2 separate regions of the Homo sapiens genome follow, and region 2 is linked to region 1. Evidence: fine-mapped expression QTL. A gene starts in region 1. The other region holds a variant in brackets. All regions are shown on one strand. Distances are from middle to middle.

Region 1 (16,080 bases):
CCGTTGACCCTTGAACAATACAGGTTTGAACTACATGGTTACACTTATCCACTTAGATGTGCATTTTCTTCTGCCTCTGCCACCCCTGAGACAGAAAGACCAACCCCTCCCCTTCCTTCTTCTGGTCAGCCTACTCATTGTGAAGATGACAAGGATGAAGACCTTGATAATGATCCACTTCCACTTAATGAAGAGTAAACATATTTTCTCTTTCTTAATAACATTTTCTTTTCTCTAGCTTCCCTTATTGTAAGAATCAGCATGTAATATATGTAACATACAAAATATATGTTAATCTACTGTTTATGTTATTAGTAAGTCTTCTGGTCAACAGTAGGCTATTCGTAGTTAAGTTTTGGGGAAGTCAAAAGTTATATGTGAATTTTCAACTGCACTGGAGGTTGGTGCCCCTAACTCTCACATTGTTCAAGGGTCAAATGTGTATGTGTTATGGTTTGAGTGTGTACCCCAAACAGCATGTGTTGGAAACTTAATCCCAAATGCAGCAGTGTTGGGAGGTGGGGCCTAATGGGAGGTATTTAGGTCACAAGGGCTCAACTTTCATGAATAGATAAATGCTGGTTATAAAAGGGCTTGAAGCTCTGAGCTCTCTGTCTCTGTTTCTGTCTCTCTCTCTGTCCTTTGATCATAGGATGACACAACAGGAAGGCTCTCACAAGATGCCAACCCCTCAATCTTGGACTTCTCAGCCTCCAGAAACATGAGCCAATAAATTTCTATTCATTATAAATTATCCAGTCTCAGGTATTCTGTTATGGCAGCCCAAAACAGACTACGACAGTGGTTATATCTAGATGATAAAGAAATATATATCTATATATAGATATAATTCTACATATTTCCATGTATAATCCTACAGATATAAATATGTAGATCTACATTGATATATATCCTATATGTCTAATTTCATGTAAGCTGAATTTTTCTTTGAAGGATTATTTAAAAGAGCAAACTACTGAAAACAACCTGAGTGGCCATTAGTATGTGACTGGTCAAACAAATTGTGGACTTCCATACAAGAAATATTATTCAGCCAAAAACGTATAAATAAGAGGTTGAGGATGCTCCTTATGAACTGACACAGAGTCATCTTCTGGAAGTATTATTAGGTGAAAAAAGTAAGGTGCATACAGAACAGTGTGTATAATACGCTGTCTTTTTTGTAAAAATAGAAACAAGAGGACTTTGAATATATAAATACACATTTGTTTCTACTTGCATAAAATATCTCTGGAAGGATCTGGAAGAAATAATTAATATCAGATTCTTTCGGGGAAGGGAAATGAGTGAATAGGTTGGGAAGGAGTTTTTTCCAGTATAACCTTGAGAACTTCTTTAATTCTGAACCCTGGAAATCTTATTTTAAATGAAAATAACATGATGTTTTAAATTGAATAATTAATTAGTAATTTAAATGTAATTAAAGTTTATGTAAATACTGTTTTGTTAATTGAAATATTAATAAAATAATTTAACATAAAACATTTTAATTAAAACAGCATAATATTTTAAATTGAAACAAAAACAGTGTGGATCATGAGATGTTTGCATTTGTTTAGGTTTAGAAGGTTCAGCTTTTGAAGATAGGAAGGAACTAACATAGGCTAGCTTTTTAGGTATAAAAAACCCAAAATGTTATCTGCAGGCATTTTAGCTCACCAAGTCTGGTGTGGGGATTAAATATTTTTAAAGTTTCCCATGTGATTCTCATGATGATGGTCCAGTGTGAGGATTCAGAGCTTTGGAAACCTCAGACCCCATATGGGACACTTACGATTTTGAAAATTAAATTGCATGACGTATTTTAAATTCTCAGTACATGCTAAATGCTTAATTAATATTGGATCCTTTTATCTCCTTTCAACCTGAAATAATAGCATTAAATTATGTTCTCACAGTCCTTTCCATTTTGCAAGGCTCTTTCCATTTATTTAGTCCTACTGAGCGCTAGGAATTTTGCTAGGCTATAGGAATAAACAGATTGAGTAAAGTACAGTCCCTGCCCTCTAGGAACTTACAGTCTTGCAGTCTAGTAGGGGTGGAAAAAAAAGAGATCTTTTTCCCTTCCATGTGACTTGGAGCAGAAATTCTCGAAGTATCATCCAAAGACTACTTGGTGGGGGTGGGAGGTGGTCCCTGAGATCCTTTCAGGGGATGTGATGGTTGATTTGGGGTGTCAGCTTGACTAAGGCACCCATATAGCAGTAAGACGTTTATTCTCAATGCTTCAGTAGGCACTGAGTCCATCCGTCTTCTGCTGAAAGGGAAGCCTGAGTGGTTTGGCATTTGATTAGAATGTTTGGGCTGCCCCAGGTGTGTCTGTGAAGGTGTTTCTGGAGGATATTGGGGTGTGAGTTGGAAGACTAGGTAGGGAAGATCCACCCTCACGGTGGGTGAGCACCATCCAGTTGGATGGAGGCCCAGCTGAAGCCAAGAGGTGGAGTAAGGGTCAATTCTTGCTCTCCCTTCTGCAGCTGGGATGCCCTTCTCCTGGCTTTGGATGTCAGAACTCCAGGTACTCCAGCTTTTGGGATTCTAGGACTTGAACCAACAGCTCCCTGAGCTCCCAGGCCATTGGCCTCAGACTGAGAGTTAGTTAGACCATCCATCAGCTTCCTTGGTTCTGAGGCCTTCAGACTTGGACTGAGCCACACTACTGGCCCTCCTGGTTCTGCAGCTTGCAGACCCCACAACTGAGTGAGCTAATTCCCCTAAGAAATTTGTTCTCAAATATCTCTATCAATATCTTTATCTATATATGTATCTATATGTATATCTTCATGGTTCTGTCTCTCTGGAGAACTCTGCCTAAAACGGGTCTGCATGATCTTCCCTTTTCCAACTCCTTATCTGTGTGAGATTAGATTTTCATTTGCTTCAACCAAAATAGCACATTGTGGCTGGGCGGGGCGGCTCACGCCTGTAATCCCAGCACTTTGGGAGACCGAGGTGGGCAGATCACTTGAGGTCAGGAGTTCAAAACCAGCCTGGCCAACATGGTGAAACCTTGTCTCTCCTAAATATACAAAAATTAGCCAGGCATGGTGGCATGCACCTATAGTCCCAGCTACTTGGGAGGCTACTTCGGATGCTGAGGCAAGATAATTGCTTGAACCCAGGAGGCAGATGTCATGGCGAGCCGAGACCGTGCCACTGTATTCCAGCCTGGGCGACAGAGCAAGACTACGTCTCCAAAATAAACAAACACATAAAGCTAAAAAAAAAAAAAATAGCACATTGTGACAGACTGAAGCAGAAATGAGAATTCAGCTGTTTTCTATTAAACTAGACATCAAAGAGATTTGCAAAAATGTAAAATAATACCTTTCTTACTAAACTTTTTTGGTTTGGAAACAGCCATTTCACTAAAACATTTTATTTATGTCAGTATGTATATTTATTATCCTTATTTTTCAAATATTTTTAATTTCAGTAGCTTTAGGGGTACAAGTGGTTTTTGGTGACATGGATGAATTGTGCAGTGGTGAAGTCTAGGATTTTAGTGCACCAGCATCTTTGTAATGTACATTGTACCCAAAAGGTAGTTTTCATCCCTCACCTCCCTGCCACCCTCCTTCCTTCTGAGTCTCTATTATCCTTATTTTTTTAATGCAGTAATAGATATTTGAATAATAGCTTTACTGAGATATAATTCACATACCATGCAATTCACCCATTTCAGTGGTTTGTAGGATACTCAGACTTGTACGACCATCACTACACCAGTTTTAGAGGCTTTAATCACCCCAAAATAAACCCTGAACCCCTTAGTCATTGTCTCTAAATTCCCCCACCCCTCACCCCCTGGAAATCACTAATGTCCATTGTGTCTCTATGGATTTGCCTATCCTGAATATTTCATATACGGTAAACGGAATCAGGTAATATGTGATCTTTTATCACTGGCATCTTTCACTGAGAATAATGTTTTCAAGGCTCACACACGATGTTGAATGCATCAGAACTTTGTTTCTTTTTATGGGTGAATAATATTCCATTGTATGCATAGACCACACTCTGTTTCTCCATTCATTAATGGATGCATGCTAGGATTACCTTCACTTGCTAGCTCTTAGGAATAGTGCTGCTGTGAACATTTGTGCATGGGTTTTTGTGTGGACTTACGTTTCATTTATCTTGGGCACATACCTAGAGCGGAATTGCTGAGTAACTCAGTGTTTAACATTTTGAGGAACAGCCAGACTGTTTTCCAAAGCAGCTGTATCATTTCACATTCCCACCAGCAGCATATGAGGGTTCTGATTTCTCCACGTTAGTTAGTGTGAAGTGATACCTCACTGTGGCTTTGGCTTCCATTTTTCTGATGGCTAATGAGGTTGAGCATCTTTTTATGTGCTTATTTGTAAATAGAAATAGTTTTTGTAAATATAAGTATTTGTATTTGTAAATATTTATAATATTTGTAAATATAAATATTTTTAAGTTAAAAATCCTTGAATTTACAATAAGGTAAATATCAATAAAGATAACCTTTGGCCGGGCACAGTGGCTCACACCTGTAATCCCAGCACTTTGGGAGGCCGAGGTGGGCGGATCACCTGAGGTCAGGAGTTCGAGACCAGCCTGACCAACATGGTGAAACCCCGTCTATACTGAAAATACAAAATTAGCCGGGCATGGTGGCGCGCAGCCTGTAGTCCCAGCTACTCGGGAGGCTGAGGCAGGAGAATCGCTTGAACCCAGGAGGCAGAGGTTGCAGTGAACCCAGATCGCACCACTACACTCCAGCCTGGGCGACAGAGCGAGGCTCGTCTCAAAAATAAATAAATAAATAAAAATAACCCTCACTGGAAAAAAAAAAAAAGAGCTCTTTAGATCCTTAATAATTTTTTTCGCGTGTTCAGTGGCCCTAAGACCATGAAGTTTGCAAACCACCAGCTGGTGTTAAACATAAGCCAAGGTGTTATTCTAATGGAGATCTGCCCGAAGTCTCTCTTCCCTGATAAATGCTCTTCATTTTCCGAATAGGCCTCTCTTCCCCAGACAAAGGAGTGAAGGAGGGCTGCTCTTTTAGTTGTGAGCATCACTGTAAGCAAACAATAGGTTTGCTTTTCTGAGTCATGTCCAGACCCCATGGCAGGTCTGTGCACCAGATCCAAGTGCCACCCTTCCCCAGAATTGCCAGAGAGGTTGCAAGATCGAAAAGAATTTTAGGAGAGGTAGCTATGAAAATACAGACTTGGGGGTTCCACGGTTCTTACTTTTTTCTTTAGTTGCAACTGGAGACAAAAGCATCAGCCAGCCAGTTCACAACGGGAGCAGGGAGCAGAGAGAGAAATTAGCATTAGACTCAGATCAGTGCAATAACCAAGAAGACCAGAGATAGAAGTGTCCCTGGAGATCAGCTGACCCACTCACTGCTATCAATAAAGCTACTCGGGCCCATCTATCAGCCCATCCATCCATCGATAAGTCCATTCGTTCATCATCCATCCAACCAACATTCACATGGTACATGCTCTGGGCATTGGCCCATGTTTGGTGTTGGAGACGCAGATAAATCAGATTCAGCCCCTGCTCTGTAGGTATTTGCAAGGCTGATTGGGAAGAGAAGTTCTGGTATAAGAGTACACTAGACACCCCAAACTCTGTTCTCACAGAACTTGCTATCTATGGATGTCCCAAACATCTTACAGGTGCTTCAAGCTTAGCCTGTTCAAAAAAGAATCTGTGGTCATCACACTCCTATCCATCAAAAAATAATCTGTTAATGCAATACTTTTTATTTATTCTTACTATTTTTTGTAGAGATGAGTCTCACTATGTTGCCCAGGCTGGTCTCAAACTCCTGGCCTCAAGTGATCCTCTTGCGTTGGCCTCCCGAAGTGCTGGGATTAAAGGCTTGAGCCACTGCACCCAACCAATACGATAAATATCCCTGAGTTCACGCTGATATAAATAAATACAGTACTTGAATAAATAAATGGAGAAGAAAAGTCAGCTTTTCCTTACAGAGAAAGGCCATTGAATATATGTAGATGAATAAGGGGAATAGAAAATCACCATTGGAGAAGCACTGTAGCAATCATTTCTGCAGCAAGATCCACAGATGGATGCTAAAATTAATGGGCAAAAATTGGAGGAGAACAGGGTATTCGCATAGCCTCAAAATTTCTCCCCCAGCGTATTTATTAATTACAAAGGGGGAAAATAGTAACTTAACAGTGGAGAAACCTGGCAGACACCACCTTAGCCGAGGGACTAAAGTTTACACCATGGGTAATAAGACACATCAACATCATGTGGTCCCTGATATAATTCCCGGGGAAGGGTGTGAGACCACTTCTGTGGTATTCCTGCCCTAAATGCATAGTCTCAATCCAATCATGAGAAAGCTTCAGACAAACCCAAATTGAGAGAAATTCTGCAAAACAACTGATCAGAGCTCTTCAAATGTTTCAGGGTCGTGAAAGACAAAGATTGAGGAGGTTCAATCACACATCCTAAGGACAAATCACAAGACCAAAGGAGATGGGATAACAAAATGCAACATGGTTGAGCAAGAGCTGGATTTTCTGAAACAAAACAAAACAAAACAAAACAAAAAACTTAATTGAAAATACAAGGTGGGATCCTGGATTGGATCCTCAAATAGAATAGTTTTTCTATTAGTAGAAACATTAGTAAAATTTGAATGAGGTCTGTAATTTCTTTAATAGTTTTGTTCTGGTGTTGGGTCTTGCTTTTAGTCATTGTGCTATGGTTAGGTAAGATGTTAACAGCTGAGATAACTGGGTGAAGAATATTCAGAAACTTAATTTTTGTGACTTTTCCTCAAGTCTAAAATAATTTCAAAATAAATTTTTTAAAAAACGTGTTCCTCTACAGAGTTTTTTTTTTTTTCTTTTTTTCTTTTTGAAACAGAGTCTTGCTCTGTTTCCCAGGCTGGAGTGCAATGGCAGGATCTCGGCTCACTGCAACCTCCACCTCCTGAGTTCAAGCGATTTTCCTGCCTCAGCTTCCTGAGTAGCTGGGATTACAGGCCCCTACTACCATGCCTGGATAATTTTTGTATTTTTAGTAGAGATGGGGTTTCGCCATGTTGGCCAGGCTGGTCTTGAGCTTCTGACCTCAAATAATCCAGCTGCCTTGGCTTCCCAAAGTGCTGGGATTACAGGTGTGAGCCACCGCGCCCGACCTCTACAGAGTTTTCTCATCTCAGTTAAGGGCAGCCTCAATTCCCCAGTTGCAAATACATGTATGTATAAAGAGAGCCTTTCTGCATGCTTCTCTATCCCCAACCACCAGCATCTGACCCATCACTCAATCCTGTGAGCTGTTTCCTCAGTGCCTCGTAACCTTCTACTTATCCCCATCTTCACCCTGATGACCAAAACGTTTTCTAACTTGTGTGTTTGCCCCTAATCTGATTCCCACCTAATCCATTCTTTCCTGAGGGCAAGACACATTGTTTAAACACACAGAAACACACATACATGCACACACACGCTCCTAAATATGACACTCCTTTGCTGAAAACCCTTTCACAGCTTCCTTTTCCCTGAGGATAACATCCAACATTTTTCCTGTGACTCACATGCCCCCGTCTGTTCTGTTTCCTGCCTCCTGTCTCTTCTTACTTGTAACAGTCTCACCACCATGCCCCTCCTTCTGCCTACCACGTTCCTGACACACCGGCCTCTCTCTGATGGAGGGACTCAGTGCCTTCTGCCCCAGGACCTTTGCATATTCAAGTCTCTGCCTGGAATAGTCTCTCCTAACTCTTCAGCTGGCCAGCTCCTATTCCTTACCTCAAATGTGACTTTTCTAGAGAGGCCATCTCCGAATCCCCACACTAGAATGTGTGTGTTTAGCATGAGAATTCCATGAAGACAGAACTATTTTCATCACTATATTCCCAGCATCAAGCCCGTGGAAAGAACCAGGAATAAACATTTGTGGATCGAATGAGGAAATGGGAACTCAGAGTTATGGCAAGACCCAAGTCCTCTTCCCAATATACTCTTTGGTGTCTTTACGTCGCAAAAGTCTGGAGTCTCACTAGAATTATCTAACTATGGTAATGTTGACTTCCAGGCACTGCACAACGTAAGCTCGTCAATGACATGCAACAGTCCCATGAACTGGGGATTCTTGTGAGCCCCGTTGGTCAGATGAGGACAGCAAGGTTTGCAGACGCAGTGTCTCCCCAAAGTCACAGAATCAGTGATAGAAACCAGGATGCAGACACAAGTGTATCTCCAAGGGCAGGGGCTAGCAACCTAGACTCATTCACCCCACTGTGTCCATCAAGGGAAATGTGAATGTCTAAATGGGAAGCAAGAAGAAGTCTGTTAGACTTCAGGAGCTTCTCTCTGAATCCAGCCCACAAGAGCCTCCCAAGTTGTAAGAAAATACATAGAGGACACAAGGCATGGCTGGAAGCATTACCTTCACGAGGAGTACAGGCTTCTGCCAATCCCAGGAAAAGCAGAATCAGCAGCGACATTTTCAGAAATGGCTCTGATCTGTGCATGATGGGGCTGGGATTTGGGCTGAATGTTCTCCTCCTAGGATAGACAGGACTCTCTGGTCACCCACCGTCTTCCCAGGCTCCAGGGACAAAACTAACTGCCCACACCTGCCCTCTAGCCTGCCTGGAGGCTGGCAGGTCTCCAGACCTGTGCCCACGCCACCAACTGCTGACCAAAGAACTGTATCTGCTTTTTCATCTTAAAGCAACATTTTAGAACAGTTTCATGCTGAGTGTGATGCTTGTCATCCTATGATCTGCTGGCCAAATCCTGCCCTCCTCCTGTTTTTGTAGGGCCTATGAGCTAAGAGTAATTGTTACCTTTTTTAATGGTTGGAGGGAAAAAACAAAAGAAAATATTTCATGACATGAAGATTATATAGAATGTGAATTTCAGTGTCCATGAATAAAGTGTTATTGGAACACAGCCATGCCATTTCACTATGTATTGTCTACAGCAGCTTTCAGGCTGCAAGACTGAGCTTTGTAGTTGTGACAGAGACCATCTGGGCCAAAAGGCCTAAAATATTTACTGTCCGGCCCTTTATAGAAAACGTTTGTGGACCCCTGTCCTAGACGTACTGTAAATTTCAGAAAAACAACAAAGCAAGCAAACAACATCTATCGTATTTCTACTCAGAAGTAAGTATTGTTTTTACATTTTTGTGTATATTCCTTTCCAAAGATGTCTACGTTTATACTTACCTCTAGCACTTACTAGCTATGTACCCTGAGCAAGTTACTTAACCACTCTGTGCTTCATTTTCTTGATCTATAAAGTTGGGATAATGATATTTCCAGGCTAATGTGATACTATCATATCACACCTGTATGATAGTAAATTTGTACTGTTGTAGCCATTAAGTTTGTAATAATTTTTCATAGCAGCCACAGGGAACTAACTGTTTCCACTGGTAATTCTTAGAAATTGCTTTGACAGTCAAGAACTTTAGCTGTCAGTGGGAATATGAACTTGACCCAGTATCCCTCTGGACTCCTGGAATAAAGGCAGAGTGTAGAGACCACTGGTCTATCTAAGCTCTGAAGGTTTCTATGGTACTTCCTTCAAGCCTGATAGAAACAGAGGGTTGTGTGTAGTGTCCTGGAAGGAAAGAGTTCCAGGTGTGGAGGGATGTCCACTCTTGCAGGGGACTCTCTCCTGCCGCCATCTCTGGTGCTATCTATGTTTCAATCCCTAGTACAAGCTGGACCATCTCATGTACATTAGGGGATACCTCAGCGATCCTTCAGACTAGGCTGGAGGAGAGAGTTCTTGTTGGCCATTTGCCATATTTCAGAGCTCCCCTCCTTTGTGAGCACATGGTCCTGGCAACTCATCACCGGGAAAACGTGATACTACAGGATTTGTTATAATGAGCAGAAGAAACAAGGCGTAAAACATGTGGAAGGCTTTTCACATCCGGTGCTATGCGGAAGTAAAGACCACCCAATGAAAACAAGCAAAGGCTATTAATTCAGAGCTTGCTGTAATAAGGGAGGCCACTGACACCATTTGTGTTTGGCACAGACTCAAAGGCAGGCAGGGTAGTGGGAAAGCTTATAGTGAAAGAAAGGGAAGGCTTCAAGAGTGCCTGGTTGGAGGCCGTTGGCATAAGGAAGCTGGCAGTGGTTAATTAGAGGCCATTGTGATTGGTTGGGGGAGCATATTTGGATTTCTCTGATTAGTCCTACGTTTCGATTTTCCATCCTTCCTTAGCAGCCTCATTACCAGCACAGCTGTTTCTTTGCTTTATCAAATATAATCACAGTCCCTAACTCATAACACTAGGGTTTAAATGCAACAAATGCCTGGGATGTAGAACATCATTAATATTCTTTAGCATTATCTGCTCTGCCAGACTGTGATCTGGGGACAGAGATGAGTCAGATACTGGCCTTGCTCATGAGGAACTCATGCTTTAGGGAAGATCAGGATTTCTCACCATTGGCACAGCTGACATTTAGGACTAGATCGTTTTTGTGGTGGGGGCTGTCTTCCGCTTTGTGGGATATTTAGCAACATCTCTGGTCCCTATCAATTACACAGTAGCACCTGCCCCACCCACCCCACACCAACCACCACCGCCACCATGTTTGGGGAGCCACAACTAGGAAGTGATGAGCTTTTAGTGCTTATTACTCTATTTTTATTATAACTTATTTATGTTCAAGTTTATACAATTTAGTTTTGAGTATTGGGCTATGTTAGGCAAGCAGCTAAAATGAGGAATTTTACCTCAATTTAAAAATGTTTTAAATGTAGAAAACTGAAAACGTTAACAATTGACCCTCATAAGCTGGCTCCAGTACACGTATGTAATATTATTTTGTGTGTTTTTACATTTATTCTAAATGGTGTTTCACTGAATCTTTCTTGCACAACTTGCTAGCTATGTATGTATTTATTTATTTATTTATTGAGACGGGGTCTCACCCTGTCGCCCAGGCTGGATTGCAATGGCACGATTTCAACTCACTGCAAGCCTCCGCCTCCTGGGTTCAAACGATTCTCCTGCCTCAGCCTCCTGAGTAGCTGGGATTACAGGCGTGCGCCACCACACCTGGCTAATTTTTGTATTTTTAGTAGAGACAGGGTTTCACCATGTTGGCCAGGCTGGTCTCGAACTCCTGACCTCGTGATCCACCCACCTCGGCCTCCCATAGTGCTGGGATCTTTTTTTTTTTTTTCACCCAGCGTGATGTTTGTGAGATCCACTCATGTCTATGTGGAGCAGGGAAGTGGTGCTGGACCTGGAGACGGCAAAAAACCTGGTTGTTATAGTCACAGACAGCCAATCAGTTAGAATCACAGACATTGAGTCAATCCAGTGTGGATGCCAATCCCTGCCCCACCACACTACGGCTGGCCTGAGTTTCTTCTTGCTACCATAACAAATTACCATAAAATTTGTGACTTAAGACGACATAGATTTATTATCATACAGTTCTGGAATTGAGAAGTCTGAAATGGGTTGATAGAGTGAAAAGCCTTGGTAAAGCTACATTCCTTCTGCCGGCTCTAGGAGGAATTTGTTTCCTTGCCTTCTGCAGCTTCTACAGGCTGCCCACATTCCTGACTCCTGGTCGGCCTCTTTCATCTTCCTAACCAACAGCATGGCGTCTTCAAATCTCTCTCCAACCCTCTCCCATTTTCAGGCCAGCGATGGCCGGTCAAGTCTTTCTCACCGTACATTGCTCTGATTCTCTGTTTTCATCATTCCGTCTCCCTCTGTTACCCATTTCCCTCCCTCTTTCACTTACAAGATCCTTTGTGATTACATTGGACCTACCCCAGTAATCCAGGATAATCTCCCCACAAGGTCAGCTGATTAACAGTCTTATTTTTATCACATCTGAGAGTAACACACTCCCAGGTTCCAGGAGTCAGATGTGGGTATCTTCAGGGACAATTATTCTGCCTGCCTCACAGATGCATAAACTTGCTCAATTGACTATATCCCTGAGCCTCGGTTTCCTCCTATTAATGATAGCAACAATTATTATCATTAATTATTATATTATTATGCCATATAATTGTGAATGTTTTAAAGTATATTGAGGGGATGTGGAGAAATTGGAGCTCTTATACATTGCTGGTGGAAATGTAAATTGGTATAGCCCCTGTAGAAGATAGTTTGGCAGTTTCTCAAAAAGTTAAATATAGGGCTACCGTATAACCCTGAAAGTCCACTCCTAGGTATGTACCCGAAAGCACGGAAAACAGGTAATTACACAAATATTCACACACGAATGTTCACAGCGACACTATTCACTAGAGTCAAAATATGGAAATGATTCGAATGTCCATCAATAGATTAATGGGTAAAGTGTGGTATAGCCATATAATAGGATATTATTCAACTGTAAAAAGAAATCAAGTACTGATACATGCTAGAACATGGGTGAACCTTGAAAATATTATGCAAAGTAAAAGCAGCCAGACACAAAAGACTACCTAGTGTATGATTCCATTGATACGTAATATCCAGAACAAGTAAATCCTTAGAGACAGAAAGTAGATAGTGGTTGTCGGGGACTAGGAATGGGGAGGGAAAGAGGAATGGCTGCTTAGTGAGATGGGGTGAGGGGTAAGGAAAGTGTTTTAAAACTAGATGTGGGTGACGGTTGAACAACATCGAGAATGCACTAAAGGCCACTGAATTGTACACTTAAAATGGTTAATTTTATATCATATGAATTTTACCTCAATTAAAAAAGTTTTAAATGTAGAAAAATGTGTTAAAAGCTCTAAAAATAGCAATTAAAAATCCCATGTTACCAAAACAAAACAAAGAAAACAGTACAAGCATAGGGACTGTGCATATTAAAAGTAACTAAATTTAAAAAGTATTAAAAGTAACTAAATTTAAAAATTAAACCAGCAGCAGCAGCAGCAGCATCTGAGGCTTCTACAGGGAAACAAGTGGAAATAGTTCAACCCCTCTGTACAGTTCCTGGGGCAGTCCCAGAGCTTGAGCAGGTGGGAGGGATGAGCATTCTGTCCCTGCCGCAGGGGCCATTACACCCACAGGGGCAGCGCCCACACAAGGGGTCTCGGCTGCAGCTGGCATGACTGGCTCAGCCACACCAATGCTTCTGTGTCCTGGGCAGCCTGGCTTCCCAACCCCCAAGGAGTCCCAAGCCACTGACTAGGTCCTAGAATAGACAACCCATGTCCTGGGCTCTGGCTGGCTCTCCAGTCAGTTCCTTCACATCTATCCTAGATAGAGGAGCCCTTGGAGTCTTCTGTCCCCCACTAAACAGATAAGGGAGCAATGGGTCAGAAGTTTCAGGGATTTTTCCCAGAAGGGACCTGAAAAGTGTCATCGGATTTAGCCAGGCTCTGAAATCATAGAGGTGCGGGATCAAACCTCAGCTCCCTCCACCTCCTGGCTGTGTGCACTAGGACAAGGATTTCTTTTCTTTGGACCTCAGTTTCTCAGGGAGTAAAAATGGAGGTGTCATAGCAACAGTCGATACTTTTTCTAGCACTGACTACATCCCAGATGCTCTTCTAAGAGCCTTTGCCTATAATAACTCCTACAACACTATGAGATGGGAACTGTTATTAGCGTCATTTTATAGATGAAAAAAGTGAGATCTAAAAGCATAAGGTCCACTCAGAATCACACCACTAGTAATTGGCAGGACTGGGATTCGAAGCTAAGTATATGAATCTGCAGTGAATGCTCTAAACCAGCCCTGTCCAGTAGAACTTTCTGCAGTGATAGGAATGTCCTGTATCCGTGCTACCCAGAATGGTGGCCACTAGCCACGTGCGGCTGCTGAGCACTTGAGGTGACGCTAATGCAACTAAGGAAATGAAGTTTTCATTTTATTTCATTATGAAGCATGTAAATCTAAATAGCTACGTGGTAAATCTAAATAGCTACATATATTGGACAGTGCTGCTCTAAATCATGATACTAAGCGCCTCTCAGCCTTAATAGACTATATACCTAACAGGGTTGCTATGACAGTTCTGACAGAGCCATATGTGTAAAAGCACCCTCTGTGAACCAAGCAGTCTCGGTGTTGGGGATGCACTTTCTCTAACCCTGTGGAGTTTATAGTCTGGTGTAGGAAGACAAACAACAATATTGACAAACACATATATAATTTCATGTACTGGTCATTGCTGCAAAGAAACTGAAATAGGGCCATGTGTTAGAGACCGATGGGGTTGAGATGCTGCCGTAGCTAGAGTTGTCAGGAGAGACCTCACTGAGATGGTCACATTTGAGTTTAGATCCTAATGAAGATCTGGGGTAAGAGTAGCTTAGACAGAGGGAACAGCTTGTGCAAAGACCCCGAGGCAGAAAAAAGCAGAAGGAATTTGACACGCAGAAAGAAGATCATTGTGGATGGAGCAGGGTAAGCTCATGGGAATGTGGAGGGAGGAGAGGTTAGAGTGGTAGGCAGGGGCCAGATTGTCAACAAACCTGAGTGGGCTCCGCCGTGAGAATGATAGTAAGCACAAACCAGGAACATTCCTCTTTGTCTGCTTTCCCTGGGCCCTCTTACACCCACTTGGTTCTCTATTAAATATGGGCATCTCCGGCCAGGCACCGTGGCTCACGCCTGTAATCCCAGCACTTTGGGAGGCCAAGGCAGGTGGATCACGAGGTCAGGAGATCGAGACCATCCTGGGTAACATGGTGAAACCCCGTCTCTACTAAAATTACAAAAAATTAGCCGGGCATGGTGGCAGGTGCCTGTAGTCCTAGCTACTCGGGAGGCTGAGGCAGAAGAATTGCTTGAACCAGGCACCGAGATCGCGCCACTGCTCTCCAGCCTCAGTGACAGAGTGAGACTCCATCTCAAAAAAAAAAAAAAAAAAAAAAGTGGGGGCATCTCCCAAGCAGAAAGCAAAGCCTAAGCCTACTCACTTCTTTGGGGAGAGAGGAAGAAAGTCTTGGACAGTAATTGAGCATCCTCTTTGGGCACCTGCCCCAACAACTTCACACACATTATCATCTCATTTAACTGAGGTTGGATCTGCAAAGGCAGCTTGGCTTGGCAGAAAGAGCGGGAGCTTTGGAATGAGGGCCTAGATCTCACCGTGGGCTCTATCACTTGGTGCTATTTTTAGCAAGCATGCAGTAATAATCATAATACTCTCAGCAGTTAAGCTTAATTGGGTGATTATGATGTGCCAGACGTGGTTCTAAGCACTTCATATCTATTAGCTCATAATTTTAAGAGCTGGGTAGTATTATAATTTCTCTTTGCAAATGAGATAACTTTGCCCAAAGTCAACAAAGCCAATAATTGGAAGAGGTAGGATTTGAATCTATACAGGTATGATTGACATTTGTGAACTTGTTTAGCTGCTAAGTCTCTATACCCTGATTTCCTTTGGAAGAATTACCTCTGCTCCACTGTATGTGGTCCTGGTGGGATAGTTAATGCACGTGCCCATTTTCTCATAATGAAAAGCAAGCAGGGTCCCTCAAAGCTCCTTGCACCAGATCCTTATTTTTACACTAAAGCCAACCAACCTTTGTCCTAAGCCAGGCTAATCAGACTGCTTACCTGGCACTTTAAATCTCGAATTGAGTAAAGCAAGAGTGGAAGAAGCAGATTTAATGCTTTTCAGGTGAGAGTGTTGAGTGGCTCATGATACAGAAATCTCTTGGTTTCCCAGGCTTCACTCTTTCCCAAACCCACTCTCCAGCCTTCACTTTAATCCTTTGAACTCCACCCCTTTGCCAGTTCCTTCCAGTGATTTCTCTTTTAAGCTAGCCAAAGTCCGTTTCTGCCACTGGAACCCAAAAAACCTGCTTGATTCAAGAAGTTCAGCTCTGTTTGTGTTCTAAGGCAACCTCTGGCTGCTGTCCTTCTGTACATAGTCTTCCTTCCATTGGATCTCTCAAAGAGAAAGCTCACTTCCTCAGTTTACTTTCCACCAGCTTTAAGTTTCAAGCCTTACTGCTTGCTTACAGCTTTAACCACTTACATAGAGTATAGGTGCATACTAGATGCTCAATTAATATTTGTTGAAATGGTATTCAAGGTGAAAGATTGAGAAGTGAAGATGGTTTGGAATTGTGTTGTTGATGCCT
Region 2 (16,080 bases), 29 kb before region 1:
CTAGCTCTGCCCCATCACCAGGGCAAGTGTCTCCTCCTCAGAGCAGGGCTCTTCTAGAAACCAGCCAGTGGGAAGCAGCGCCCCCTCCAGTTCCTCACTGTCCCGGCGCCGGGCCTGAGCTTGTGTTGCACCCCTACCTCCCACTAGAGGGCGCGCCCCGCAGGAGCAGGGACTGCCCAGGCCTGGCTGGGCTGCACCCCCTAGCCTGGTGTGCTGGAGTCACTCAGAGTTGCAGGAAGAGAACCTTAAGGTTTGCTTCTGGGTGCTGGAGTTCCAGGGATGGATCAGGGGTACTTCCTGCTCCCACAGGGGCTCACAGTCTATGTGAGCAGGGGCCCTCAAACTGTGTTCCGCAGGGCCAACTGCAGCCTGCATCCCTTTTAATAAAGTTTCTTTTTGTAATTGAGGTAAAATGCAAACATAATGCATAACATAAAATTCACCATTTTAACCATTTTGAAAGGGCACAATTTAGTGGCCTTCATTACATTCGCCATGTTGTGCAATTGTCACTTCTAAGAGTGGAACATTTTCATCAACCCAAAAAAGAAATCCATTAAAAGCAGTCACTCCCCTTGTTCCTTCCTCCCCTCAGCCCCTGACAACTAGTAATTGGCCTTCTGTCTCTTTGAATTTGCCAGATCTGTCTGTTTCATATACATGGCATCATCTACTGTGTGATCTTTTGTGTCTGCTTCTTTCACTCAGCACAGTGTTTTCAAGGTTCAGCCGTGTTGTTGCACGTGCCAGGACCCCATTCCTCTTTTGGGGGCTGAATAATAATCCATTGTATGAATGCACTACGTTTTGTTTATCCTTTCATCAGTTGTTGGGTACAGTCACAGCCATCAGTGTATTCTCTACGATTGCTTTGACTAGAGTAGTTGCAACAGACCATATGACCTGAAAAGCCAACACGTAATATTTGGCCCTTCACAGAGAAAGTTTGCCAACCTCTTGCCTAATGGGTTGAAAGCACACCTTTATATGAAAATAACTATCTGGTTTGACCGGTGCTTTAATGTATGGTTGAAGAGAGCCTGAGAAACCGTTCAACACCATTCATTTCCTTCAGCATCCTCCCCAGTGGAATCTGAAGGATTGCTGTTGGTTCCTGAACCAAAGCATTGCTTAGGTGAATCTTGAGGACTGAGGAGGACTTTTCTAGGTAGACAGAGATCAAGGAATCAATGTGTGCAATGGCATAATGGAGCGGGAAAAAAAATGTGATGTTTTGGGGGGAATCAGAAATGATTTAATATGGGGGGGCGTGGTGGCTCATGCCTGTAATCCCAGCACTTTGGGAGGCCGAGGTGGGTGGGTCACCTGAGGTCAGGAGTTCGAGACCAGCCTGGACAACATGGTGAAACTTCATCTCTACTAAAAATACAAAAATTAGCCAGGTGTGGTGGTGCATGCCTGTAATCCCAGCTACTTGGGAGTCTGAGGCAGGAGAATCGTTTGAACCTGGGAGGCAGAGGTTGCAGTGAGCTGAGATTGGGCCACTGTTCTCCAGCCTGGGTGACAGAGTGAGCCTCCATCTCAAAAAAAAAAGACTGGGAGCCACCGCTCACGCCTGTAATCCCAGCACTTTGGGAGGCCGAGGCGGGCGGATCACAAGGTCAAGAGATCGAGACCATCCTGGCCAACATGGTGAAACCCCGTCTCTACTAAAAGTACAAAACTTAGCTGGGCGTGGTGGCACTCGCCTGTAGTCCCAGCTACTTGGGAGGCTGAGGCAGGAGAATTGCTTGAACCCGGGAGGCGGAGGTTGCAGTGAGCCAAGATTGCGCCACTGCGCTCCAGCCTGGCGACAGAGCGAGACCCTGTCTCAAAAAAAAAGGTTTAATATGGACAGGGGATGGAATGTGGGTGGGGGGATCAAGAGAAGTGGAGAAAAGTTTAGAGAAGCAGGAGGAGCTTGGAGCCTGAGAACCCTTGGGTACCATGCCAGAGACCTGAACTTGATCAATGGGGCAGAGGCTTCCTGCCAGGTTCCCTGAAAACTTGGGATCTTTTAGGAATTCCACAAAGGTTTGCTTTGATTTTCATTTCAAAAATTAAACTATTTTTTAAAATAGGTGTGTACCCAAAATATAGCACATGGACTGAAATTTTTATTCACTGGAGAGCCACACCAACCTGTTGCATGTTTTACATACAGACCTTGGGGAAAAAATTGTATTACCTGAAGGGCATGTACACTTCACAAGGCAAACTATTAGGCATTTGCAGTGACTTATCTCTGTGGGCTCAGATTTTTCTCCGTATGAACAATTAAAAGGAAACACTGCAAGATACGGGGTAAAAGAGAGTAACGTAAGACAGCAGAGGCCTTCTGTACCCTGTGCTTGCAAATCTCATCACCTCACTTCATAATAAGTAAATGTCACACAGTTAACCTTAGGAAAAGTACCTCTGGTAATGAAAAGCAACTTAGAATTTTTTATATATTGGGATTCCATGTAAGATTTCAGTAGAAAAGTGTTTTGGATTTTCTTTCTTTTAAAGTTTGAAAGACACTCATCATAGTTGGTGAGTTTCCACTGGTGGATTTAAGCAGGACTGCAGCAGGGGGTGGGGGTATATCGTATGATCGAGTTGACATTTTTTAATGTAAAAAGGGCACTGGGGATGCCAGGGAGAGGATGAAAGGCAGGCGACGTGGGAGAGGCCAGGGAGGAGCCTCTTTGTAGCTATCAAGGGAAGAGAAATCTCCCATCTGTCCTTAGTACTTTCTCTGGCGACGTGGGAGAGGCCAGGGAGGAGCCTCTTTGTAGCTATCAAGGGAAGAGAAATCTCCCATCTGTCCTTAGTACTTTCTCTGGCAACAGGGGAGAGGCCGGGGGGGACCCTCTTTGCAGATACCGAGGGAAGAGAAGTCTCCCATCTGTCCTTAGTACTTTCTCTGGCGACGTGGGAGAGGCCAGGGAGGAGCCTCTTTGTAGCTATCAAGGGAAGAGAAGTCTCCCATCTGTCCTTAGTACTTTCTCTGGCGACGTGGGAGAGGCCAGGGAGGAGCCTCTTTGTAGCTATCAAGGGAAGAGAAATCTCCCATCTGTCCTTAGTACTTTCTCTGGCGACGTGGGAGAAGCCAGGGAGGAGCCTCTTTGTAGCTATCAAGGGAAGAGAAATCTCCCATCTGTCCTTAGTACTTTCTCTGGCAACAGGGGAGAGGCCGGGGGGGACCCTCTTTGCAGATACCGAGGGAAGAGAAGTCTCCCATCTGTCCTTAGTACTTTCTCTGGCGACGTGGGAGAGGCCAGGGAGGAGCCTCTTTGTAGCTATCAAGGGAAGAGAAATCTCCCATCTGTCCTTAGTACTTTCTCTGGCGACGTGGGAGAAGCCAGGGAGGAGCCTCTTTGTAGCTATCAAGGGAAGAGAAATCTCCCATCTGTCCTTAGTACTTTCTCTGGCAACAGGGGAGAGGCCGGGGGGGACCCTCTTTGCAGATACCGAGGGAAGAGAAGTCTCCCATCTGTCCTTAGTACTTTCTCTGGCGACGTGGGAGAGGCCAGGGAGGAGCCTCTTTGTAGCTATCAAGGGAAGAGAAATCTCCCATCTGTCCTTAGTACTTTCTCTGGCGATGCGGGAGAGGCCAGGGGGACCCTCTTTGCAGCTATCGAGGGAAGAGAAACCTCCCATCTGTCTTTCGTACTTTCTCTCCGTACCCTGGACCCTAGCCTTGACCAGGCTACCGTCATCTCGTGGAAACTGAGTAGCCTCTTAACTGGCCTCTACACTTCATGTCACTGGGACGTGTCTCTTTCTCACTGACAGCCTTTCCGTGGCTTCCCATGGCTCTGAAGGTTGGGTCTAAAATGCTTGCTCTAATCTTCCAGGTCTGAGGTGGTCTGCTGAGCATGTCACCCACACTCCTCCCATAGTGCCCTCCCACTCCCTCCCCCTTCTCCTGCCCCCATTTTTCTTTCTGACTCCAGGCACATCTAGGCCACTTTCCACCCCAGGGCCTTCGTACAAGCCAGTTCCTTCACCTGGAGGCTCTTTCACTTGTTTTCTGTGTATCTGACAACCCCTCATTCTACAGGCCTTTGATTCATTGTCACTTTCCTAAAGAGGCTTTCCTTCATCACCCAACTATCCAGGGCAAGGTTCTTTAGTTCTCTTTTTCATCATATCCTCAGCTTTTCCTCTAGCTCTAAGTATCACCTGTAATCATCTAATTGTTTTCTTGTGAGCTCAGGAATCTTGTCTGCCCCGTTCACTACTGCATCCAGGATGCATCAGTGGGTCGTTATAAACACAGAATTATCATATGACCTAGCAATTCCACTCCTAGTTTGTACCCCAAAAGATTTTAAAACAGATATTCTAACATAACTTGTTCATAGCACCACGACTCACAACAGTCAAAAGGTGGGAGCAACCCAGTGCACTTTACCTGATGATGGATAAACAAAGTGTGCTATGTCCATGCCGTGGAGTGTTATCCAGCAGAAACGAATACAGTCCTGATACAAGGTATACCATGATGAACCTTGGAAATATTATGCCAAATGAATAAACCCAGATGCAAAGGGCCACGTAGTGTATGATTCCATGTGTATGAAATGACCAGAGTAGGTGAGTTCTCAGAGACAGAGAGTAGACTAGTGGTTGCCAGGAACAGGGGGAAGAGACGATGTCTTGGTACAGAGTTCCCTTTTAGGATGATGAGAAGATTCTGGAAACAGATTAGTGGTGATGGCCACACAATATTTTGAGTGTACTGAATGTCACTAATGGTTAATTTTATGTCGTGTGTGTTGGGCCACAAGTCCTAAGACTTGTGAAAAAATTATAGAGTGAATTTATAAAGGAGTTCCTCCTGCCCGGCACATCCCTGTCATTTACAATGTGTTTCCTTGCCCCTGTCAGGCAGTGGCTTGCAAGTAAGGGTGACGAACTTGGGACTTCTCATGGAATTCTGGGTTTCTATGATTGCAGCTTCCAAATCCACCTGTGTTCCTTACCTCAAATGCCAGGCAGTTGGGATGAACCTCCCCTAACCCCACCCCAGCGGTGGGAAAAGCCCACTTCCCTGCCATAGCATACCTGATGTCCAGTTCCAAGTTACAGTAGTGGCAGTAACACTTGGGAGGAAAAAGTGAACTGGGAACAGAGAAAGAAACAGTTGGGGTGAGGCGAGTGAATTCCTTCCTTACCTCCCTTTCTCCCCATCCCCCTCTCGCTTCTTTCCCGTCCTCCCCCTCTGCTCTTTCCCTCTGGTTGTAACATCTTCTGGTCTTGCTTCTCTATTCAGCCCGCCTCTCACCACTCCCACCTTCTTCCCCATCTTCCAGCCAGTTCTCCTCATCCCCATAAGCAGCACAATCCCCTAAGCTGGGGTTTCTCAGCCTCAGGTTCCTGACGTTTTGACCTGGGTTATTTTTGTCGTGGCGTGTTGTCCTGGGCCGTATGGCAGGTTGAGTGGCCTCCCTGGCCTCTGCCCACTGGATGCCAGTCGAGCTCCCTCCTCCAGCTGTCACAACCAATCCTGTGGTCCAGACACTGCTGAGTGTCTCCTGGGTGGCAACGTCACCCCCGTTTCAGAACCACTAGCATAACTGAAGTCACTGTCTCAGGCTCATCTCCCTGGTCTCTCCATTTTCCTTATTCCTCACACCCAGCGCATAAGCAGTTCCTTTAGAACTGCTGCACGGCTCTCATCTCCATGAGCACCGCCAGGTCCCCTGCGCTGGCTGGTCGGGCCTCCTCTCAGTGTGTCTCCTCCTCTCAGTCTGTCTGCTCCCACTCTCGCCCTGATTCCGATCCACTCTCCACAGGCAGCATTGAGAAGGATCCTTTGATAACTCAGAAGGGATCTTGCTGGCGGCTGTCCACTAGCTTAGAACACAAGCTTCCTTCTCGTGGTCTATGAGAACCTTACATGACCTGGACCCCCCTGCCCCTCTCAGGTCACATAGATGTTCCTTTGGTTCCTCGAAGGTACTCAGTGTGTTCCTGCCTCAGGGTCTGCTGTGCATGCCTGCTTTGCTTGCAGTGGTTGCCCCCAAGCTGCTCTGAAGGCAAGATCCTTCCACTGTCTCATCTCTTATGTCCAGACGTTACCTGCCCGGGGAAGGCTGCCCGTGGCCATGGCTGCTCACTCTGTGATATCACCCTGATTTAGTTCATGTTTTTTGGAGCTGGCTGCTTGTTTCTCTGCAGTCCTCCTGCTATCCCAAACATGGGAGCCCTGGGGACTCAAGGACCTTATGGGTTCCGTTCTTCTCTGAGTCCCCAGCATCTAGGATGGGTCCTCTACACACGTGAATATTTGAAGACTGACTGAATCAATGAATGAAGGATGACTTGTCCTTCCTTCCATCCCTCCTTCCCTTCCGTCTTGCCTCCCTCCCTCCCTCCCTCCTTTCCTTCCTTTCCTTCTTTTTTTTTCTATTTACTTTAATTTTTTGAGACAGAGTCTCACTCTGTCACCCAGGCTGGTGTGATCTTGGCTCACTGCAACCTCTGCTTCCCAGGTTCAAGTGATTCTCCTGCCTCAGCCTCCCGAGCAGCTGGGATTACAGGCATGCGCCACCATGCCCGGCTATTTTTTGTATTTTTAGTAGAGACGGGGTTTCACCATGTTGACCAGGCTGGTCTTGAACTCCTGACCTCGTGATCCAGCCGCCTCAGCCTCCCACAGTGCTGCGATGACAAGCGTGAGCCACCGTGCCCGGCCTGGCTTGTAGTTTCTTGCACCCTGCCTTATTTTCACCTCTCTGAGTCTCGCACATGGTGTTTCTCTGGAATGCTTCCCCTGCTTCCCCTCCTCAATTGGCTAATTCCATTCTGTCCTTAACCCACAGCAGAGGTGTCACCTCCTGCAGAAAGGCTTCCATGAGCCCACACTTCCCCTAGGCTGAGATAAGCGCCACTGCCTCCTGCACTAGCACCTGCTCATGAAGTGCTACCACTCGGTGATCTGGTTCTCTCTGTGGATGTCTGCCTCCCTTACAGAATTAGGACCTTCTTGAAGGTAGCTCAACCATCAGAGTCCCCAGCAACCAGCAACAGGCTTGGTCCTTATGAACGTCCCTTAGAAAGAACAAGAGACAGCGGCAGAGAGAGAGGCAGAATGAGTGACAGTATTTCAAAGGAGCCCCTGGGGCTGTGTTAGTGCAGAAGGGAGAAGTTTTATCCCAGTCTAGAGGTGGGAGGGAGGGAAGAAGGAAAGAGAAGGAAGGAGAGAGAAGGAGGGAAGGAGGAAGGAAAGAACAGGGAGGGGGGGAAGAAAAGGAAGGGAGGAGGAGGGAGGGAGGAAGAGGGAGAGGAAGAAGAGGGAGAGGAAGAAAAGGGGGAGGAAGAAAAGGAAGGGGGGAGGGAGGGAGGAACGGGGAGGAAGAAGAGGGAGGGAGGGAGGAAGGAAAGAAGGGCAGAGAGGGAAGAAGGATGGGAAGGAAGAAGGGAGGGAGGAAGCAGACGGAGAGAGGAAGAAAGGAAGGAAGGGAGAAAGGGAGGGATGAAGGGAGGAGGAAAGAATAGGGAGGGAGGAGAGAGAAGGAGGAAGTAAGGGAGGGAAGAAAAAAGGAAGAGGAAAGGGAAGGAGGAAGGGGAGGGAGGGAGGGAGAAAAGAGGGAAGAAGGAGAGAGGAAGGAAGAATGAAATGAGAGATGGAGGCGGGTGGGAGAGTGGGAAGAAGAGAGTGTTTTACAGAAGGGCTCTCCCACCACTTCCTGCTTGGCACCTCTGAGGCACCCTCCTTCGCTTCCTCTGTGCCCCCACTTCCCTCCTCTTTCCTTCCTCTCCTCACACTCCTCCCCTCCGTGCTGCCTTCTTCTTACCCAGTCCCCTTTGTTGTAGGATACGAAGAGGTAGGTCATCACCATGTAGGCGCATTTCAGGAAGTTCCACGTGTTCTTCCTCTTGGGGAGTGGTTTCCTGGATGGGGTGGTGCCTGAGAAGGGTTTAACTGGAGAGAACCGTGGAGATGATTGATGCTGATGGCCTTCCCTTCCTGCCTTAGAGCTTCCTGTCACTGCTGTCTCTCCATTCTGATCTCCAAACTCACATCTCTGCCTGCCTCCTGAATTGAAATTTTGGTCCACACCCACCATCACTGCCAGCTTCCCCCTTCTTGGTTACCACCATACTCCAGACAAACAGTCAGGAATGCCTTTTGGCTCTCCCACCTCACATCCAAGACATCACCAAATCTGACCCTGTCTTGCCCAGATTTCTCACCAAACTGTCAGAGGGGTTTGAACCAGAGTGACTCCGTCTTGAATAGGGGCTGGGTAAAATGAGGCTGAGCCCTACTGGGCTACATTCCCAGTAGGTTAAGGCATTCTTAGTCACAGGATGACAATAGGAGGTTGGCACAAGATACAAGTCGCAAAGACCCTGCTGATAAAACAGGTTG[C/T]GGTAAAGAAGCTGCCAAAACCCACCGAAACCAAGATAGCGATTCAAGTGACCTCTGGTGGTCCTCACTGCTCATTATATACTAATTATAATGCATTAGCAGGCTAAGAGACACGCCCACCAGTACCATGACAGTTCACAGATGGCATGGCAACTTCAGGAAGTTCCCCTACTGGCCTAAAAAGGGGAGGCACCCTCAGCTCCAGGAAATCTCCACTCCTTCCCTGGAAAACTCATAAATAATCCACCCCTTGTTTATCATATATTCAGGAAATAACTATAAGGAGACTCAGTCCAGCAGTCCTTGCTGCTGCTCTGCCTATGGAGTAGCCAGTCTTTTATTCCTTTACTTTCTTAATAAACTTGCTTTCACTTTATGGACTTGCCTCAAATTCTTTCTTGCACGAGATTCAAGAACCCTCTCTGGGGGTCTTGATCGGGACCCCTTTCTGGTAACAAAACCACCACCTCTCCCCCATCCCCAGGCTTCAGGCTCTGCTCTTGATGGCTGCCTCTGCCCACTACGCCATCCTTTCTCTTTCTCATCCATCTCCCACATGAGTGCCAGCAGGATCTTTCTAGCACCAGATCCGACCGTGTCGCTTTCTTATGTCAAACCTCATGAGGTGCAAGAGTGTTTCTTTCGCCTGTGTAACATTTTTCCCTTGTCTTTTTATTTTAAAAGTATTACATTCAGAAAATCTCATTTTTTTTTTACACGTAAACCTGTCTGTCTAAACAGGTTTCCAATCAAAAAATAAAACATTACCAGTGTACAGGCAAATGCAAATCGAAAACGAAAAAAAATGAATTCTCCCTGTTGAAAATTCAGGAAGCGATTACTCCTTGTCCCCTTTGCTTAGAGCATTTACTTTAGAAAATTTTGCCATTGCAAGTCTCTCTCTCTTCAACGTTTACACTAATCTTTTTCAAAGCTAAGTAAGCCTGCGGCCAGCATTATGACCCAGGAGGGTGTTTTCAAGGACCTCGAAACATCTTCCCCAGCTTCTTGTTGGGAGGGGATGGAGCCTAACTTTGGTGGGCACCTCACCCCAAGTAGCAAATCTACCTCCTGTGATAAAGATACTAGAAGTTTATTTTTCCCTTGGATTAAGCCAATTAACAAACACAGTTGGCTATCCCAATAACCAAGTGAATTTACGGTGAACCATGTACAGCAAATAGAGCTGTCAAGTTCTTTAACTTGAGGACTAGCTGTTGTTTATCTTGAGAGCAGGTATGTAATAAGTTGTATCTGCTTGGCTATATAAAAGGGTGAAATTTTTTTTTTCTGTCTTTGCAGTCTCTTCGCATATCATGTTCTGGTTTAATGCTTACCCATTAATAAAACTATTTTCTTTCTCTTCTACCTGGGTGGAGAAGAGCTCTGGGTTTGGAGGATATTTTGTTTTTAATTATATTTCACCAACACCAGCATATCCCAAGCCTCTCAGATATACCCTCCCAATCAAAGGTACACAATCACATCTATAAAAAATGAGGCTCATCTTTCTTTCTTCACAATCCTTTTGCCTATTATTACCTTTCTCTTGCCTGGCTAGGATTTGCACTGGATAGAACGTTCAGTCCAATGTGAAATGCAAGTGGTGATAGCAAGAACGTCTCATCTGTGATCTCAGAGGGAACATGTTCTACACCCTCAGCCCTCTGTGTCGCTGGACTCTGCATCTGAGGACCCAGCCAAAAACTGGTCAAAAATACTTTTTAAAATCCCAATAAAAATAGCAATACAACAATAAAAACAATACAAAAATATAACAGTACAATAACTAAGGAGCATTTACATTGTATTATAAGTAATCTAGAGATGATTTAAAGTGTGCAGGAGGCTGTTCATAGGTTAAATGCAAGCATTATGCTATTTATATCACGGACTTGAACATCAAGGAATTTTGCTATCTGCGGGGAGGTCCTGGACCCAACCCCTGAGGATACTGAGGGACAACTGTGTTTTACCTTAAACAGCTTGTTCTTTGTAAGTTTTTGGTGGCTATTCCTTATTATATTAAGCTGTTCTCTCTACTCCTAGCTAGCTGAGATTTTTTTTTTTTTTAATCATGAACAAGGCTGGGCATGGTGGCTTATGTCTGTAATTCCAGCACTTTGGGAATCTGAGGCGGGAGGCTCACTTGGGCCCAGGAATTTGAGACCAGCCTGGGCAACATAGGGAGACCCAAACTCTACAAAAAATTTAATAAATTAGCTGGGTGTGGTGTCTCGTGCCTGTGGTCCCAGCTACTCAGAGGCTGTAGAGGGGAGGATCACTTGAGCCTAGGAGTTTAGGGCTGTGGTGAGCCGTGATCATACCACTGCACTCCAGCCTGGGCAACAAAGCTAGACCGTGTCTCAAAAAAAAAATAATGTAAGCTGTAAAATCTTACCATATTCTTTTTCTGTATCTACTGAAATGATAATGTGCTTGTTTTCTTTTATGTTAATAAGGTGGGAATACCATATATTTGTTTTTACCTATTAAACCATTGTCGCATTGCTGGAATAAAGTGAATTTAGTCATGATTGTTTAACATGTATTGCCAAATTGCACTTGCTAATATTTAGTCTAGGATTTTCCATCTATATTTATGAGGAAGATTGGCCTGAAATTTTCCTTTGTCGTATTTGTCAGATCTTTTATCAAGGTTATTCTGTCCTAAAACCGAGTTGGGAAATGACTGTTTTTAATTTTCTGGAAGATTTCCTGTAAGATCAATGTGATTTCTTCCTTTTAATTCACTATTAAAGCTAACTTGATCCTGAAAGACTTTTTTGTGTGTGGTAAGGCTATTTAATTACAGGTGGCATTTCTTTAATAGATAGAGGATTATTCAGATTTTTTTTTTTTTTTTGAGATGGAGTCTTGCTCTGTTGCCAGTCTGGAGTACAGTGGCACGATCTCAGCTCACTGCAGCTTCCGCCTCCCAGGTTCAAGTGATTCTCCTGCCTCAGCCTCCCGAGTAGCTGGGACTACAGGCACCCGCCACCACGCCTGGCTAATTTTTTTGTATTTTTAGTAGAGACGGGGTTTCACCAGACGGGGTTTCATCATGTTGGGTGGGATGGTCTCAATCTCCTGACCTTGTGATCCGCCTGCCTCGGCCTCCCAGAATGCTGGGATTACAGATGTGAGCCACCGCGCCCAGCCCAGATTTTTTATATCATTTCATTTGTTTTTGGTAATTTGTGTTTTTTTGGGATTTTGTCCGTTTTATCTAAACTTTCAATTTTATTGGCATAAAGTTTCTCCAATGATCACCTTATTGTTATTTTGTTACCTGCAAGATCTGCTATGATACTCTCTTCTTCCTTCCAAATATTGGCAGTTTGTTTCTCCTCTATTTTTTCTTGTCAGTAATGCTAGAGGATTAAATTTGTATTACGCTTTTCAAAAGAACCAACCATTAGTGTTGTTCTGGCTTTTTTTTTTTTTTTTGAGACTTGCTCAGTTACCCAGGCCGGATGCGGTGGCACAATCACGGCTCACTGCAGCCTCCACCTCCCCAGCTCAAATAATCCTCCTGCCTCAGCCTCCCGGGTAGCTGGGACCACAGGTGCTGCCACCATGCCCGGCTCTGCCTACTTTAAAACGCTCATCTCCACCATCTGGATCACTTGGTGGCTTGCTGCTATTTTCTGGTTTTCCGGCCCTCAGTCCTATCACCCAGGACTTAGCTTGGTAATTTCCATGTCGGGAAGAGAGGACTCACAGTCCACAGAAGCAGCAGCTGGGATAGAAATGTCTCCCACTCACATCTCAGTATGTTGGGTCTCCTCGATGCCCATGAGCAGTGTGAAAGGGGCAGTGGCTTGCAGACTTTGGATGCCCTTCAGGAAGGCAGCCTCTCAGGTACCAAAGCCCCTGCAGGGCCTTGATTACCTGAAATCTTCTCTTCTAAGGCTTTATCATAGCCCAGACAGAAGGGACACACTGTCTTATAGATGAGGAATGGTACGACCCCAAGCACTTACCTTCCTCCTTGCAGCCACTTGTTTCTTCTAAAAATGAAGAGATGGAGGAGAAAAAGAAGCAGGAAGAGAAGGAGGAAGAGGAAAGGAAGAAAGGGAGGGAGAGAGGGAGGGAGGAAGAGGAAGAGGAAAGGAAGAAAGGGAGGGAGAGAGGGAGGGAGGAAGAGGAAGAGGAGGAGAAAAGAAAGGAAAAGAAAAGAAACCATCAGGTGAATTATGAAGTGGGTGGAGACCAAACTCTAAATAGTGCTTCCAGGTGCCTCGAATGAGGAGAGAAGAGAATAAAGTTAGTCTCCCTGTGTCCCTGGATCCCAGGGACTCAGCTGCCTCAGGGCCTTTGCATATACTGTTCTCTCTTCCTGGAATGCCTTTCCCCCAGTTATCTCTGGCTCACCTGCCCTTCTTCTTCAAGCCTTTGCTCACATGTCATGTTCCCTGATCGCCCTTTAAAAACTTTTTTTTTTTGAGACAGAGTTTTGCTCTTGTCACCCAGGCTGGAGTGCAATGGCATGATCTCGGCTCACTGCAACCACTGCTTCCCAGGTTCAAGTGATTTTCCTGCCTCAACCTCCCGAGTAGCTAGGATTACAGGTGCACACCACCATGCCCAGCTAATTTTTTCTATGTTTACAAAATTTGTTTCAAAATAATTGTTTGTATTTTAGTAGAGACGGAGTTTCACCATGTTGGCCAGGCTGGTCTCGAACTTCTGACCTCAGGTGATCCACCCACGTCGGCCTCCCAAAGTGCTGGGATTACAGGCATGAGCCACCATGCCCAGCCAAAAAACTTAAGTTTCCCGCACTGCGTTTCCATCCCCATTACTCTATTGTCTCCATAGGACATAATAGCCTTCAGCAGACCTATAACTACTGCTCTTTGTTTTTTCTCCTCTGATTGGAATACAAGTTTCACTTGGTCACAGACTTCTGTCTGTTTTATCCTCTGCTGCATCTCTAACACCTAGAATAACATTTGGTACAGGAGAGCTAACATCAGTTAATATCTGTTGGACAAATAAAAACATGTTAAACATTTATGATGCAGATGATGATACGGATAAAGAGTGTAGGGTCTGATGATATTTAAGGGACCCCCCACCATAGAAAAAACCAGTACCTGTATATTTCTGTGCACAGGAGTGAACACGAAATAGCAGTCACCAGACTTACCATGCAGTACTTGGAGGCTCAGCAAGCCTAAGGAGGACAGGGGCATACAACGCGAGTCAGAAGGGACAGCATGATAAACACTTCCAGACCAGCAGGTCCAGCAGGCTCGCCCCAAGCCACTCCTCCTCCGAGAAGCCCTGCTGGATTGCCCGCATCGTCCTCTTGCACACTGTCCCCACTGCCACCTCCCCCCTGTGCCACACAGATTCCTGTTGTAGTTTAACTGCCTGTTACTTTTCCATCTCCCCACCTCCACTAGACTGTGAGTTGACGTGAGGGTGTGAGCTTGTCAGATCCATCTTTCAGCTTTCCACCACCCTGCCCAGCCCTAAAAAGCATTCCTCCCAAACCAGCTTCCTACAGAGTCCCGGGGCAGGCATGGAGTGAGGTGTCACCTAGGATCTCTGATGATGTCCATCCAGAAGGAGATGGGGTCCAGGAAGCAAGACAGGTCAGGGGAGCAGACAGGCCCAGAGTATGGAGTTCCCAGGAGCCGTGGAAGAGGAGGCCACATGTAGGGAAAAATCACAACATCAGAAGACAGAGCGATGGGAGCACAGGAGAGCGGAGCCCTGGGTGGGTCGTGCTGAGTAGTCAGGACATGCCACAGTGAACAGCGCAGAACAGTCAGAGGCTGCTTCGTGTGGGTTGGAGGGACGTGCAGTGACTTGCAGGATTTGCACCGCAGCAAGGTTAGGCTGGGAAGGAAGCCGCCACGCCATTCCCATCTCTTCTGTTTGTTTTTGTTTTGTTTTGTTTTTTGTTTTTTAGACGGAGTCTTGCTCTGTTGCCCAGACTGGGGTGCAGTGGGACGATCTCGGCTCACTGCAACTTCTGCCTCCCGGGTTCAAGCGATTCTCCTGCCTCAGCCTCCTGAGTAGCTGGGAGCACAGGCACCCGCAACCACACCCGGCTAATTTTTGTATTTTTAGTAGAAACGGAGGTTTCACCACGTTGGCCAGGCTGGTCTAGAACTCCTGACCTGAGGTGATCCGCCCGCATCAGCCTCCCAAAGTGCTGGGATTACAGGTGTGAGCTACCATGCCAGGCCTTTTTTCCATGTATTTTGTGTCACTCTAATGTAGGCACCTACATACTCATCCAGGGGTGGCACATTCCATCCCACCACCCGTTGTTGTTTTCTGAACTTTGTTTTTTAATAACAACTTGACTGGTATATTAATATAATTCACATAACTTATGACTCACCCATCAAGTGTACAAGACAGTAGTTTTTAGGACATTCACAAAGCTGTGCATCCATCACCACAAACAATTTTAGAACGTTTTCATCACCTGAAAAAGAAACCGTGTACCCGTTGGCCATTGCCTCCAAACCTGGTGCCCCTGAGCAGTCACTCCCCATCTCTCTGGGCTCACCCCCCTCTCCCGCGGTCCTAGGCAACCACTAAGCTGCTTTCCCTATCTGTGGACTTGCCTGCTGTGGACATGTCGTAGAGACAGAGTCATACCCTATGTGCTTTTGTGTCTGGCTTCTTTGACTGAGCACTGTGTTTTCAAGGCGCGTTTATGTTGTGTCCTGTGTCAGCACTTTCTTTGTGGCTGAATAACATTCCATTGTATGAATAGACACATTTTATTTACCCATTCATCGGTGGGTGGACATCCTGACACTTGCTTTTGTAGATGAAGTTTTATTGGAACAGAGCCATGCCCATTCACAATGTGTTGTCTACTGCTTTTGTAAATAAAGTTTTATTGGCACACAGCCATGCCCATTCACTGTGTGTTGTCTGTGGCTGCTTTCAGGCCACAAAGGCAGCATTGAGTAGTGAGTGGCAGCAGAGACCACCTGGCCCTGAAAGCCTAAGATGTTTACTATTTAGCGCTTTACAGAAAACAGAAAAAAAAATGCTGATTGATCCCTGCCTTATGTCACTGAATTCTCAAACAAGCAAAAAATATTATCTCCATTAATCAGGTAGGAAAATAGAATCTAAGGGAGTTTGGGTAAGTTACGCCCACATTATAGATGATGGGAGTAGAGTTCCCACCCAGGCCTCTTTGCCTTAAAACTCAGGCTGTCTCCACCGAACCACTTGCATCCTGGGTTAATGTGAGGGTCCGGGAGAAAGAGCCCACGTGAATCGCCCAGTACAGAGCTTGGCACCTGGTGGGCCCTTAGGCAGGTGTTTGGGATTTTCCTGCTGGGTTTGGCTTTTGCTCGTTACTGGAGCAGGGCTGGGTCTGCTTGGCACCTGGTGGGCCCTTAGGCAGGTGTTTGGGATTTTCCTGCTGGGTCTGCTTTCAGTTTGCAAAGTGCTGTCAGTGCAGCATGAGGACGGAGGCTGGAGAAGGGCCTGGGAAAAGGAGCGAAAGGAGCAAGGCAGAGGGGCCTCCTGCAGACATGGGAGTGTTCAGAACAAAGGTAAATGAGGTGGTCCTCACAGACCCTTGCTGAGCTCTTATCCCGTGCCAGACATTTTATTCAGCGGGGGGTTTCTCAACCTCCAGACGAGTGACATTTGGGGCTGGATAGTTTTTTTGTTGTGGGGGTGGGGTGTCCTGTGCATTGTAGGATGTGTAGCAACATCTC

The links. PIP is the estimated chance that this variant, and not a neighbour inherited with it, causes the effect.
Region 2: its variant is fine-mapped to the expression of EDDM13 in sun-exposed skin (GTEx, PIP above 0.99). The same link has a PIP of 0.9 or more in unexposed skin.

The regions. Positions count from the first base shown.
Region 1 is chr19:56,265,273-56,281,352 of GRCh38, reverse strand. It overlaps EDDM13 (epididymal protein 13), which reads right to left and starts at 8,605. Exons shown (of 15, transcript NM_001354658.2): 1 at 8,434-8,605; 2 at 5,244-5,261. The coding sequence starts at 8,518. All of the region lies in intron 2 of ZSCAN5A (zinc finger and SCAN domain containing 5A), which reads left to right. It overlaps LOC124900420, which reads right to left and starts at 8,605. Exons shown (of 5, transcript XM_047439799.1): 1 at 1-8,605.
Region 2 is chr19:56,293,806-56,309,885 of GRCh38, reverse strand. The region is part of intron 2 of ZSCAN5A (zinc finger and SCAN domain containing 5A); the gene reads left to right. It overlaps EDDM13 (epididymal protein 13), which reads right to left. Exons shown (of 15, transcript NM_001354658.2): 10 at 13,919-13,927; 11 at 13,524-13,550; 12 at 12,355-12,381; 13 at 7,791-7,918; 14 at 5,056-5,093. LOC124900420 reads right to left here. Exons shown (of 5, transcript XM_047439799.1): 5 at 1-16,080. The coding sequence starts at 3,645. The coding sequence ends at 2,527. Among named protein-coding and RNA genes, the nearest start is that of ZSCAN5A-AS1, 13 kb to the left of the region's middle. The variant C/T (reference allele first, on the strand shown) is at 8,369.